4 linked regions of the Homo sapiens genome follow. The protein of the gene in region 2 interacts with the protein of the main gene of each other region in a pairwise test. Each region holds a gene or a part of one and is shown on either strand. Other genes may lie near its edges.

What was found. Proteins that work in one complex are often made in the same cells at the same time.
Region 1: the proteins of GMCL1 (region 2) and TBC1D1 interact in binary tests that used the Homo sapiens proteins (3 or more experiments, as listed by UniProt).
Region 3: the proteins of GMCL1 (region 2) and SYT6 interact in binary tests that used the Homo sapiens proteins (3 or more experiments, as listed by UniProt).
Region 4: the proteins of GMCL1 (region 2) and PAX4 interact in a two-hybrid assay, tested with the Homo sapiens proteins (3 studies listed by BioGRID).

The regions. Positions count from the first base shown.
Region 1 is NC_000004.12:38,048,084-38,051,583, reverse strand, and holds part of TBC1D1 (TBC1 domain family member 1), read right to left. Parts: intron 1,967-3,500; coding exon 1,686-1,966; intron 1-1,685. UniProt on the Homo sapiens protein: May act as a GTPase-activating protein for Rab family protein(s). May play a role in the cell cycle and differentiation of various tissues.
Region 2 is NC_000002.12:69,839,660-69,843,159, reverse strand, and holds part of GMCL1 (germ cell-less protein-like 1), read right to left. Parts: intron 2,219-3,500; coding exon 2,121-2,218; intron 1,678-2,120; exon of another isoform or gene 1,608-1,677; intron 73-1,607; exon of another isoform or gene 45-72; coding exon of another isoform or gene 12-44; coding exon 1-11. UniProt on the Homo sapiens protein: Possible function in spermatogenesis. Enhances the degradation of MDM2 and increases the amount of p53 probably by modulating the nucleocytoplasmic transport.
Region 3 is NC_000001.11:114,143,870-114,147,369, forward strand, and holds part of SYT6 (synaptotagmin-6), read right to left. Parts: intron 1-3,500.
Region 4 is NC_000007.14:127,615,343-127,619,488, reverse strand, and holds the start of PAX4 (paired box protein Pax-4), read left to right. Parts: upstream 1-1,346; 5' UTR 1,347-1,527; intron 1,528-2,088; 5' UTR 2,089-2,214; intron 2,215-3,461; 5' UTR 3,462-3,560; coding exon 3,561-3,573; intron 3,574-3,957; coding exon 3,958-4,088; intron 4,089-4,146.

The sequences.
Region 1 (3,500 bases), on a different chromosome or scaffold from region 2:
TGACTGTGACCTTGAACTCTTGGCCTCAAGCAACCTCCCACCTCAGTCTCCCAAAGCTCTGGGATTACAGGAGTGAGCCACTTCGCCCAGGAACAATAATATTTCTTTCTCTATTTTCTTTTTCAGGAACTGGCAGGAAAAAAAATTTTTAATTAAAGTATAAACAAAAGCAAAAAAAAACTGAACTTTAAAAAATACATTTCCCTTTAAAATGAACAATATCCTGCCCTGAATTTCAATGTCTTATTTCCTGTAGATAAATCGGAAAAGAGCTCACAAGGGGGAAAGAAAGCAGAATGGGCCATGCTAGAGAGGCAGACAGACAGGCATCTCCTCATCCCTCCCATTACGGATGTGTGACATCATCTATTATAAAGCTACATTCTTCATGGAGAAAGGAAAAGTACTGATACTAAGTCCTATCAACTCTGGCTTTTGAGAAACAGCAGACTTCACAAGAGAACTAGGACTCTCCAGACAGGAATGTTTCAATGATCACTGAAAACGCCAACAACAGAGGAGTGGGCAGGCAGTGGTGAGGCAGCACAGAAGTAATGTGCAGACAGGGTGTTAAACACAAGAAACTTACACAGCTACAACCCAACGATGTGTGTCTCTAAAAGCGTGTATTTATTAAGCAGTACCTTCTGACATGTCCCCTGCTTTTGGGATCACCACTACCCCGCTGAATTCCAAAGAACCAAGAACTCTTTCCAATGGCTGACAGAAAACAAAGCTGGGAGGCTCTGCTCCATCATCCAGGACTGTTAATGCTCACACTTCTTTACTCAGAACATTCCAAACACTTCTGTACTAACTCACACTCTCAATGATCCGTGTATGAACTACACGAACACATAGGTCCTGGGACTTCTGCGGCTGCTGGTCAGAAGAAGGCAGCGACTGTACACAGGTGTGACCTTGATTCATATTAGGTGAGAGATTTTTAAAATTGTTTAAAGTTGTTTTTAAAGATAACTGTGTCCATTTATAGTCTCTGGCACACAGAGTTAAATGAATCACTAAGGGACACTTGGAAGGAATGGGGGGAACTTCTGATTACTCTTCTCCATAACCAGACGATTCTAACTGGTCACAGGAACCCAACTATTACAATGAATAAATCTTGTTAGAAGAATCTAGAATTCTTACAGTGAGAGATTTTAGAAAACATCTACTCCAATTTTGTTATTCAGAGAATTTAGCAAATTCGTCCAGGTCACAATTAGTTCACGGCAGAGCTAGGACCAGAAGCTGAAGCACCCCTGTCACCCTATGAGGCCAGCATACCTCTCTTGCTCTGCCTGTAAGGATCAGCGCCTCTCCCTCCCATTATAACCCTGCTCCAGGGCTTCAGATGGGGAGACTCATCCGCTTGCCCTCTTCCTCACAGCAGCAAAGTTCCACAGTCAACAACGTCTCTTACTTTGTTTGAGGAGTAATGACTATGCATGTTAGGTACCATTTTTGCTCACTTTCACTTGCTTCCTGACAATACAAGTACCCATTGCTTGTATACTCACAAGCAGCTCGAACGAACATGTCACTGCTTCCAGTTTTATCTCCAAACCAAGAGTAAAGCCTGACTCATTTCTCTCACTCAATAAACATACCTGGGATGCACATACCTGGCTAGTCACAGATATGCCCCAGCTATTTATGCAACAAATTTAAACAAATCTTACTTTCGTTCATGAGGCGTCTCTGTGCTCACTGAGTGATACCTCATAAGTTTCCTTTGCGAAACCCCCGGGGACCCCCGGGCAGGTTGTGGAGGTTCCTGGCATTCGATGGGGAAGTGACTCAGGGTGTTTGCTCGCCTCCTGAAGGCCTGCTGGGGCGACAGCGGAGCTGGCTCTTCTGGGAGATGACTCTCCGAGTCACTGGACAGGTCCTCCGAGGAGCCGAGGAGCTTAAAGGAGCTCTCAGAGATGGGCAAGGCCTCCTTTTCACACACAGATGGCTCCTGGGAGCAAACACACAGCAGATCAGACACACCATGGGGAATATGTGGGATTTATAAATCTCTAGTTCCTGCACGGGCAAACATTGCAGTATCTAAGTATGTGTTCTGATTATAATGCCATCTAGAAGCCACCACCAAAAGCAGAAGAAAATGAAGGTCCATTAAATAAATGCCCGCTCCTCAAGGACACACTGCTGGCTTGCTGGAGAAATGGGGAGACTGGCCAAGTGCAGGAGTGAAGGACATAAGCCACAATCTGTAACGTTCTGAACAACGCCATGAATAGTGCCCTCTCTCTAGAAAACAGGACTGTTTACTGCAGCTTCTAAGGGGTGTGAGTGCTGGAGAACTTGTCTCCACTGCTTAACCAAGTTCTTTATCTTTGCCACATGTGTTCACTCATGTTAAACCCACATTTTAAGGCTCTCTCCGAATCTGATCTACTGTTGAGATTCGACTTCATAATTTGAGATTAAGAACTGTATCAATATTCTTAGAATATGGAAAATCACTCTGTAGGCACTTACTGCTGCAATTCAGGGCAAATAATTTCTTTCTGCACCTCAATTTCTTCTGTAAGAGGGTAAAGTAAAAATGTATCTGAGTTTCAAGAACAAAGCAAGATGATACAACCAAAAGTACTTTTTATGTTGTAAAATGTTACACAAACATAAGTTATTGTTTTATTAGGTATGCAATAAATCTATGGAGTGAGTGCTCAAACATTTGTTGAGAATCATGACAATATTTTAAAGTTGTATGCCTTCACGATGCACGCTTTTTCAAAGGAATGAACTACTACCACTCAAGCAAACTGATGTTTAACACTGCACCCAGGACGTGGCTAGTGGCCAATATATTTTTAATATATTCAAAATATTCAAAAAGAGGAATTGTAGCAGCTTGCTCCTATTGAAATTGTTGGAAGAGAAAAAATAAATCAACAGGAATAGAGTAAACAAGAATGAATGCATCTAACAGTGGACTGGAGACTGAATTCTACCTGTTCATTTACACAGTTGAGTGCCTTTTAGGTAACAAGTATTGAGGGTTTTAATTTGAAAAAAAAAAAAAAAGAAATGTGTTTACCAAAGGGAGAAGTTACATACATTTAATTGTATAAGAATTAGGAAAAAATTCCCAACATACTATGAAATATTGATTACTTTCATAACTGAAGTTTTTCATTCTTCAGGACTCAACAGTTGTGAAGATTCTTTTAAGGATTTAAAAGTCTCTCTAAGACAATACATCACAGAACACAATCTCCATCATGCAAACCTGTTGATCTAAATTCTTACTAATATCCCTCCAAATCATATCAAAGAGCTAACCCTTAGCTTAATTGGACAACTGAAAGGGCCATTTTCATTTGTCAAGTTTCAGGGCTATTTGGTTTCTTTGCAACTCCTAGGTGATCAATTTTTTAGAAGGGATCCAATTACATAAAATAGAATATAGTAGTTTCTCAATTCAAGATGAATAAAAGAAAGATGTAAAGTACACTTAAACATATACAATACATACAAGCAGC
Region 2 (3,500 bases):
ATTAAACCGTCCTGTAAATATAAATAAGCACTGGAAAGGCCCATTTCACGTGGGAAAAATTAGCTCTGACAGCTTTTACATATTAAAAAGTAAAAGAAAAAAAAAAAGAAGAAAGAAAAGAAAGAAAACTCATTAAGTGCAGCAAACCTAAGTTTTTTTTTTTTTTTTTAACAAGTCCAATAAAAATACTGAAAAAAGTTCAGCAAGTATTCAACTAAATACTTGGAATTTGAAAATGGAAGGTGGGGGGGAGTAGTAAGGTAGAGAATGAATACTGCTATTCTTTTTCTTTTCTATTCTTCCCCTGTCTGAGACCTTTGCAAATTTCTTTAGCAGCATTTTGTCTGTTTTGCCATTTCTTTTTAAATTAAGAAGTCTACATAGTCAGTTAACCATGTGATGGGACTAAACTAACAGTATGCATTAGCAGAAAGTGATCAAGTTTAAAATAACTACAATATCTAAGAGATAGACTTAAAACAAGTATATTATTATTTCAAATGATTAACATTAAAGTTTTAACCTAAAATGTTTATATAGGTTTTAAGTGAACTAACTTTAATATATGGGAAGAATACTACTTTTCATTCAAATTTCTGAAATACATTCATCATGCAGGTATATTAAGTTAAAGAGTTAGTAAATCATAAAAGTAAGCAGAAGGTGAATTTAGAACAAAACCAAAAGGACCAGAGTTAGATAATAAAGTATACTTATTGGAAGTAAGTATTGAAAGGATCAAAACATTTTGAAAATCAAATGATCTCAACCAAGGATATTTAGCAAGCTATTAATACTTCAAATAAATCAGTACAAAAATACCACATAAAAGTAAACAATTTTTTAAGATTAAAATAAAACATTGACTCCATTAGGATTTTAAACTTACCTGGAAATCATTCTAGACTCCTCCCCTTTCCTCTTAACATTTAGTCTATCACCAAGTCCAGTGGATTATCCCTGAATCTCTCTGGTATCCACTTTTTCCCCTCCAAGCTTATTGCTACTACCCTACTTTCCTCCCTTGGACGAATGCAACAAGTTTTTGTCTCTAATGCTGTACTCATCTTTCCTTCAATTCATCTGTCACATTGTTACTGAAGTATTCTTTCTAAAACATAACTTCGTCTTTCCCCTGATTAAAATATTCCAAAGGTACTGTGTATGCTAAACTTCTTAGCAATGTATAGATGTATTTTCATGATCTGGCTTCTGCCCCCCTCTTCTGCAATCCTTCTTATGTTTATGTGGGAGCCATGTTTCTGTTAGAGTCTTGAATCCTCCATTATTTCACATCACTAGATCTTAGTTTACTCTGTTCTCTCTGTCTGAAATGCTCTTCCTTCCCCTCTTCTTACTTTGCAATACAAACACACTTTCAAGACTCTGTGTGAAAATGTAACTTTCGTATGTGACACCACCAGGATGAACTGACCACTCCCTTCTTTATCCATTCACTAAATGCTACAGGATGTTTATTATCATACCTATAATATTGAACAGCTCTTACTTTACCTTTGGGTTTGTATATCAACCCTCCCTCCCCTCTCCACACATACATACTATGTTGTGAACTTTTTGAAAGTAAGGATTACGTCTTAAGTTACCTTTGGCTTTCTGTGTCTAGTTTGACACAGTGCTCAACACACTTCTCTTCAATGAACAAATCTGTCATTCTGCCAGTAGATTAAAATACATATATGTGATTTATACACAATTCTTTCAAAATTAAGAGAAATTTAAATAGTAGGCATGCATGTTTATTTGAACCCATGAATGAAATTAATTGGTAATCATAAGCCATCTGCTTAATAGTCAAGTCATTAATGAAATCTGTAAATGACCTTAGACAAGTACGTTTTTTCCACATTATAGTCATACTAAGATATCTACACAGAAATGGCCTGCATTCATTTTATGCAGACATCATGACTCCCTCGGTTGTAATAAATTGCTTTTGGTTAGGCATTTTAAATGATTTATAATAAATGTCATATTTATACATTTCATTTTTATTTAAAAACTCCAAAAAAGCTAAGCTTTATTTTTGTTTTTGGAGTACACACTTTGAGACAAAGATTATTATTCTGAACCTTTCTTCGAATAACGTGCATACTTACCAACTGCAGCAAACAAGCTGCTGCCAAAATGGCAACAACTCGACTGGGCTTTATCAAGACATCATCTCGATACAGTGAACCAAATGCAACCTGCAGTGCTGAAAGCAAGGTACACATGTAGGATGAAATAATATTTATATCTATTACAAGTGTTATACAAATAACAACAACGACTGTCTTCACACACAAAGACATCCGTCTAAATGTGGCATGCACATAAAAGGATAACAGAAGTATCTCTAATTAAAACGCTAGTAATGGTTACTGGTTGACACTGTTAATTTAATAACAAGGTTATAAATTTCTGTTTATTCTACCAAATCTAGCTGCATTCTTCTAACATGTAATCTTGACATCAGTGGTCACAACCAAGATGCCTTGCAAGAAGTTGTATAAGATACTCCTCAGTAGACCAATCGTTAAGTACAAATACGCAGACTCAAAGATAATCTTAACCCGGCTGCTTTCAGCACTCCACCACTGAGAAATGTGGTACAGCTCCTGAGTCCTGTCCATGCCACACTCATTCCCAGCCCCCACAGTGATCTATGCCTGTTCATCCTTCCTCCACTGCCACTGTTATGAATGTCCCACATGGTTTGCTTTGTAAATATTCTTTTTTTTTTTTTTGAGATGGAGTCTCGCTCTGTCGCCCAGGCTGGAGTGCAGTGGCGCGATCTCGGCTCACTGCAAGCTCTGCCTCCCGGGTTCACGCCATTCTCCTGCCTCAGCCTCCCAAATAGCTGGGACTACAGGTGCCTGCCACCACGCTTGGCTAATTTTTTGTATTTTTTTAAGTAGAGATGGGGTTCACCATGTTAGCCAGGATGGTCTCGATCTCCTGACCTTGTGATCCACCCACCTTGGCCTCCCAACGTGCTGGGATTACAGGCTGTAAATATTCTTAACTAAAGTATTTCTTTGCCTTTGTATCGCACCAGGTACTTCCATGTGGACCACCAATGAGGGGAGCAGCAAGAGCACTGGAATGGGAATGAGGAGAGCTGTAGTCTGACACAGGCTCACTAAACTGCTCTGAGATCCAAAATAAGTCCCTTAACTCCTCTGAGCCTCAGCTTCCTCAACTAAGGATTCTTTTAGCTCTAAAACAATATTTTTATTTATTGTTCCCAGAAAACATCTTCATACATAGGGAATAATCAGTATTATTTATCAGATTTTCTATGTAATTAAAAAAAAAAATGGTCATACTTTTCCTTCCTCCATCCTACATCTTCCATATCCCAGGTGGGCATATTTACAAAGATAAGTAAACAAACTGATAAGGCCCAAATGACAAAACAGATTAGTGATAAGATGGACAGAACTGATAAACTATGGTGTAAATCAACATCAAATTATCACCTTGAGGTGATAAAA
Region 3 (3,500 bases), on a different chromosome or scaffold from region 2:
CTATGAGGGATGCCCCTCTTTGTGAGAAATTATTAAGCAGACCTCCCATCCCACTTCCCTCTCCAAATTTGGGAATGAACCTTTGAGCCCAAGGCCTCTTCTTGCTCGGAGTAGAGAAGTTAGAAGGCTCTGAACCAAGGGCATACTTTGCAGGGTTTGCAAAAAGGTTACTGTGGACAAACTAGCAGAAGAGTTTTGTTTGGCTTGCTTAATGATTGAAACGTTAAGAAATTCCATCATCATCGTCACCCCAGACTTCTGAATTCACTGGAAAAGACCAATGACTTGGTAATTGAACATGGGCTCCCACATGGTGGGAACTGGTGACTCTCTTTGTAAGGATATGTCCTCACCAGCTCAACCCTCCACTTCCTGTTCCCTGTCTGGCCCCTGAAAGCTTGTAAGTTTGAAGCCTCTGTATTAGCCTGTCCAAATGCCTTAAAAATCTTACTATTTAAGGTAAGAAATGACCCCACAAGTAGTGAGGCCAGGCTGTGCCTTTAAAGATGGCAGCAGTGGTTCACAGAAGGGACTTGCTTGGAGTCACAGGTTGGTCAGACACAGAACCTGGACTAGGGTCCAGATGTCCACCACCCAGGCTGGCACTCTTTCCTCTGCCCTGACCTGTCTGTCTCTGGTTAAACTGTAGGCTACTATGACACGTGTTTTTCCTCTTTGTCTGATTCAGGGCCTCACATAGAAACTGGCACATGGAATGAATGAGTGACTGAAAGAATGATGTATGAGAAGGCTGTAATTAGCTCTCATTTCAATTAAGGTCAAGCAACATTTACTGAGTACTTGCCATGTGCCAAGTTCTGAGCAAGGCTTGAATGCCCAGTCCCCTGCTAAGGGGATCCAGGTACTCCCACAGCACATAGGCTCCAGGGAAAGAGATCCCACATCAGGGGCCAAGAAGGAGTTGAGGATATCAGCCACTCTCTCTGGGAAGCCAGCACTGCCTTTTGATTCCTTTGCTGCAAGTTACTTGCCTAGATCAGTTATCACCTCCGAGAATAGGTAATAATAGCAGAGAATCCTCAAGTCCTGAGCCACCTACCACCACCCCCTTCCCAAGCCTTCCCAACACCTGGCTCCCTGCACAGGGACATTAGAGCCTTTCCCTGGCCAAAGGAGCTGGAGGTAGTCCTTCACCTGGAGACTGCCAGACACCGGGAAAGCTCATTCTAAGTCAACTTCTATACTAAAGGTCTCCAATGTGGTGGTGTCTCCAATGGGGTGAAGCTCGGGGCAGGTGGACACAAGAGAAAAAAACCAAGCCATTTTAATATTTATAATCTTTAAAAGAAATCAAATTTTTAATATACAGGTTGATAGGAATAATAGCATGTTATTAGATTTAGGCAATTTATTCAACATTACTATGTCTAAGGTTCAAAGAGCTTTATATCTATTCACTCATTTAATCCTCTCCAATGAAAAAGGTATGATTATTATCCTCATTTTGCAGATGTGGAAACTGAGGCACAGAAGGTTAAATAGATTTCCCAGGTCACACAACTAGTGGGTGGTGAAACTGGGCTACAACCCAGCCAGTCTGGTTCTGAAGTATCACCTCTGTGGAACATGTATGTAACTTGGGAACAAAAAAACATATATTGGAGGTATTAAGTTTTTTTTTTTTTTTTTTTTTTTTAACCTGTTATGAGTTCATGATCTAAATAATTTGGAGACTCTTTCTTCAGGTCTTTATCCTAGTGGGCTCACCAGGGAAGTCACCACAGCTATATGTGTCCTTATTCTACATATCTGGCCATCTCTAGCCCTTCACATCTGTTCTCTGTTACAGCTGTTCTGGATGCATTCTCTGCAATATGAGTCACCTCAAAACAAAAGGTGTTTCTAGGGCTTTGCTTTCCTTTGATCATACATCTTACTTGTTCTGGTAATAATTAGAATTTTAATGAGAAGGGGAGTAGGGGGAATCTAGAGAGCATAGAGTGCATTTAAATGTTCAGCCTGACAAATAATTGAATTCGTAAATGAAAAGAGAGGTAGGAGAAGGGGGTGGGGCAGGACAATGAGGTTTTCCTTGGTGTGGTTGCTATTTAGATTGCCTCTCCATGTGACCCCCAGCTGCTGTTCCCTCAGAGCTGTGATTAGGGGAGGCAGAGGGCATGGTTTTTTGGAATCAGCACCCAGCACTCAATACTGGTTATATGAGACCAGGAGGCCCGTCCTATGCCTGAAGAATCTTATTGCAGGACTAGAGGAGCCTGGGCTTTTGACATCTCACTGGCAGGCAGTGCAAGGAGAATTAGGTCTCAAACACTGAGTGGGTTTGTCTTCACAGGAGATGCAAGGTTGGTGAGCAAGGCTAGTAAGACCAGAAGCAGGCAGCAGGGAGGAGGTGACTGTAGAAGATTCAGCTCATTTAAAATCACTGTATGTGGCCTTGAACTCAGACATCCCTCATCTCCTAGTTTAAGTTACATTGAGATTAGAAAGGGCTGTAGGCTTCTGTACAGCCTAAGGGCTGCATAAAGGCCCAGATAACCTAAGCTGTATGCCTTCCCACTCTGGGCTTGCTGGGGCCAACCCACTGGGACATGTCCCCTAGGAAATCACAGGTGCACAAATAGCCTTCAAAACCCTTTTCCCATTCACATCTTGTTTGAACTTTGACCCCTTGAGGCAGCTAGAACTTTGATGGGCAACTCTGCCAGTTTCTGAGTCCTGATCCAGTGCTCTTCCAATTTACACCACACGTTCACTTCAGGAAAAGCTAGAAGTAAGCCTCCAGTAAGGGAGAGAGGGCTCAGCCCAGCACTGAAAAAGAGAAAGTACCTCCTAGGTATTTGGATGCTTCTTCCCTGTCTTCTTCTTTACTTCTTCTTCAGCTTAGAGAGAAGGAAGCATTGCCCTGAAGTCAGACTGGCCTCACTAACAGTCTACCTCTACTAGTTTTAAACTGTGACCTTGGCAAACTATGTAACACTTCTCAGCCTCAGTTTCCTCATCTATAAATTGGGGGTAATAATAGTATCTACCTTTAGGGTCATTGTGAGGTTTAAATGAGACCAAAACTGTTGAGGATAGTGCCTAAGATGTAATAAGCAATATAATAAATATCACCTATTTTTATTAGAATTAGTTATGCCCAGCCCAATTTGAAACAGTCCTTAGTTTTGAAATTTGTTTAATGGGCAGAACACCTGAAAACCATTGAACATTAATCAACAGAGATAGCTTTAACCTTGTCTTTACAAACCAAGAACAATCTTACTAGCAGAAATAATATAATGGTTTTGGACATAGCCAGGTCCGTCTGTATCTTGAGACGTAACACAAACTATGGTTCAGATCACACATCTCCAGGCTTTTCCTGCTAATACTCATTTGCTTGCTGCCTCCTCAGTTGTTTTGTTGTTACCATCACCAGCCAGCTGGTGAACAGGAATGAATTCCAAAGAAGTAAGAAGAAGATCATGGAAGAAAAACCTATAATTGAGAACATCCTATGTTCTTGAAAAATTTCT
Region 4 (4,146 bases), on a different chromosome or scaffold from region 2:
CCAGCTGCCCCGGGGATGGAATGGGCTGTAAGGACACTTGGGCAAATGCTATCCTGCCCGAGGTCCTGAAATCACCCTCTGCAGTCTCCCCTGTACCCCAAGACCAGTCTGAGGATGCTGGAGGAGGGTGGAAGAGGAAGAGAGTATGTATCAGGGTAAAGTGGAAAACTCACTTATGTGATATTTGGCCTTTGAGAGCAAGAGTTCCCAACCCTAGGATCAAGCTGAATGCACAACAACCACTTTCACCCCCAAAACCTCAAAACATTTACCAATGACATACGTCTTCCATTCTCTGATTTCTGGGACTAGTCTTATTGCCCTACACCCTGCTTACTTCCAGTCTAACTTTTGCAATGGTTTCACAGACTCTGAGGTGTGGAATGGACCCAAAGACCATCTGCCCAAGACCCTGATGACTGGCAACAAAATTTACATGCACTAGAGGCTGTGTTTCACTTTCAGCATCCCACTCCACAGGCACCACCTGCCCAGCTACTGATACCTCTGACCTCGCCAATGACCCAGATAACCTGTGGTGTCTTTTGTGGAAACAGCAGTGCCATTACTAACTTAGAGTCTAAAAGCATCAAATCCCTAACAGAATGGAGCCTGCTAACATCTAAAGATGGAAGAAGGAAAATCCTGCTGCAAGCCTCCTTATAAACACCCACATGCATCTCTGACTATCCTGAGGCTCATTTCCACCACCACTACCATTGTCAGTGTTCTGAAGTCCAGGATCCTTCCATTTCCAGGCAAGAATTCACCCTTGGTGTCACCTCAGTCAAGGAGTCAATTGGAGAATTGGTTAGGACACTCTCTGGGGACAGCTGGTGCTAGGTGACACACACTCTTCACACTCTTCTCCATTCACTCTCATTATCTCAGAGTGCTAGGAGCCAACTCAGTCAGTATTTAGGCAACAGTCTGTATACTCATTTATCTTTTATAGCAACACACACGACTCAGGAGTTGACCCCAAAGCCCATGTATGTGCATTCTGGCTGGGAAGCTGTGTTGGTGGTTCGGGAAGGCATCTTTTTGCTTCTGTGTATTCAAAGCCTTAAGAACACAACCTGAAGTTCCCCATCTTCCATGCTCAGCATGCCCTTCAGGAGTACTGGTGCTTGTGTGGGTACACTTTTGCCTGTCTGAGAATGGCTCTGTCCCTGCTTCCGGGTGGTAGGTGGACACAAAGTGGGCTCTGAGGATTCCCCATGGAAGGACACAGTGGGTCATTGGCTGTGGTTTGCCCTGCCTCAGGGCTGGTGTCAGTCAGCCCATGCACACCTCCCTCCTCCTCTCTCCTCTGCTCATGGCCTGTGACATCACTGGCTACTCCCAGAAGGCTGCCCTCTGCTCTTGAGCACGGGCTCTCTATAGCTCTGGACCCCCTGGCAGGACTGAAGCAGGAGCAGAGTGGAGGCTGTTACCAAGACCAGATCATCACCACCCCTGGAGCCTGCAGGGGTCTCAGAAGCTGAGACCTCCCACTGAAGCTCCCACCTCATTTCCTCCACACAGGTAGCTCACCTGCAGGCTCATTGTCTGCCCTGCCTCTCATGCTGTCTCCATGCCTCTGTGTGGCCAAACCCAACTTCTCTCCCACTCTGCCTTTGCAGCTACAACCCTCCTGCCCCTTCCACCCCCTTTCCTGTTTTTCCATCTTGCAAGCACCAGTTATTTTTTCAGACATGTTAATATGAATGTTGGGAATGTGTGTTGTGGCTATTGGGAATGGGGTTTCTGTTTGTGAGTTGGGGCATAATGATTTAGGTTTGGAGATTATTTAGGTTTGGATACTGAACCTGCATCCCTACTGCTCTTTTGAATTCTGGTCACTTAGGAGAACTGAGTCCCATCAAGGATTTAGGGTTTGGCTGATATTTTGAGCTCCTTCACCCTGTCTTGGCACAGCCCTTTACAGTCCCTGCTTGATTCTCCTCTCTCCATTGTTTTTGTGGCAATTACACAAACATGAAACAGGGGTGGGAGCAGAGAAAGAGAGCCCAGGATTAGGAGCCAGAAATTGTAGCTTCTGATGAGGAACTGGCTTCTAAACCTTGAATTTTACTCTCTGGACAGCCCCTGACTTGTGGCAATGCCAATCTGTGCCTCAGTTTTCTCTTTGGAAAACCTCTGCCTTCTTTCCCGACTTTTTGGAAAGATGAGAATTTGAAGGGGTCTGTGCCTCTACCTACCTAGAAACAAGTGAGTAAAAGCCAATTTAGCGACTGAACTTAATAAGTAGACTCTGGATTCCAAACTCTTTGTAATTCTTTGTTTCACTGGTGCTAGTCTCTTTTCTCCAGTTGCTCTGTAATGTGTTGGAGAGCAAAGACTTTACCCTTTTCTGTTTACTGCCTTCATCCTGAACAACCAGCAATGTGCTCATGCTTAATATCTTATTCAGCATACAACTGCAGATGAATTAACTAAGCCCAGATGGCACGCTTATTATAAGAAAGTTCTGTGCATAAGCTGTTCCTTGGGGTGATCTCCAGCACTACCAGGGTTCCAGGCATGAAAGGAGGCATCTTCAACTCCCATTGATTACTAATGAAAGTAGAAGAGGTATGGTGGCCTGTGGGACCTGTGTCCCTTGCTGCTCAGAGACTCGCTTGGGCTCATGACGGTTTCTATGTTGCTCAGCGGACAGTCTTCTCCTGCTTCTCATTCCCTTCAATATGCCTTTGATAAATGTTAGTTGAATGAATGAGTGTCTGATACCAGAAACATCGTCTCTGAAATTGAAGCTTCACTGTGAGATCTAGAACTCTTCAGAGAATGAACAGAATGAACAATCTCAGCAGGTTAGAGATGCTAAGAGATGCGTCTCCTAGGAGAAGCCGGCTCTTCAGGCGTGTTCATCTCTATGCCCAGTGTGTAGGACCAGAGCCTCAATGCCTGGTGGGTTAGAGCTGAGTCCCAGTTTCCCTAGAGCTTCCTGGAGAGTATAAAAAAACAGGAGCAAGCCTTTCTGAAGTGCAGCATTTGGGTGGCAGTTTGGAGAGCCCAACCGAGGACTGCCTAATAGTGAAGGTGGACCCCTGAACTTGAGGACCCCAGAATCTCTGGCTCGGGTGTGTCTTCCAGGGCTGAGAAGGCTTAGGAGCAGCTGGAGACAACAGCTGTCCATTTGGAAAGGGGAAAGCTTGAGCATTTGAAAGCATTATCCCTTTCTACCTCCCCAAACTTTTCTAATGAATGTGTAGGAAAGGAGAACCCTCTCAATCCTCCCAGCCCCTTATCAGGACTTCAAGAAAGATCCAGTCCTCAGCCAACCTGCAGTGTTTTAGTTTTTATCACACAAAGGTTTAAATAAAAGGAATTAGAATTTTCTGATTTTAGCCAACCCACTGGCAAATTTTAGGAACCTGACCCTCTATCACAAAACACTACCTCCCAGGACCATTTCAAGCAAAAGACCTCACCCAAATAACCCCCCATTATTGCAGAGCCAGCCCCCAAGCTGGAAAAGGAGCTCCTAGAAGGAACTTCCCTTCCCAGCCTTCCCAGCTGGAGTCTCATCCTTCTGAGGAGGGTCAGCCTGGAGCATGCATCAGGACGGTGAGGAGCCTGGGGGAAGTGGGAAGACAGGGAGGACAACAGAGACAGGGGAAGACCTCAGGGCTTTGCTTCCATCAACTGTTTCATCTGCTATTGGCCAATGTTCTGGGGAAGCTTTTTCCAGTCCCTCCCTTCCTGCCCTGTCCTGCTTCCCTTAGATCAGGAGAGTTGGCGGGTATGGGCAAGGAACAAAGACTCACCCGTGAGCCAGCTCTCAAAGAAAGCAGCTTGCGTTGACAGCCTGGGGGCAGCAAGGATGCAGTCTCCCAGGAGAGGATGCACTCGGTGGTGGGAAGCCAGGCTGGAGGGGCCTGAGTGACCCTCTCCACAGGCGGGCAGGGCAGTGGGAGAGGTGGTGTGTGGATACCTCTGTCTCACGCCCAGGGATCAGCAGCATGAACCAGCTTGGGGGGCTCTTTGTGAATGGCCGGCCCCTGCCTCTGGATACCCGGCAGCAGATTGTGCGGCTAGCAGTCAGTGGAATGCGGCCCTGTGACATCTCACGGATCCTTAAGGTAATGGGCCAGCACCTTTACCCAGTGATGGGGACAGGAAGCAGGGAGAAAGGGCTCC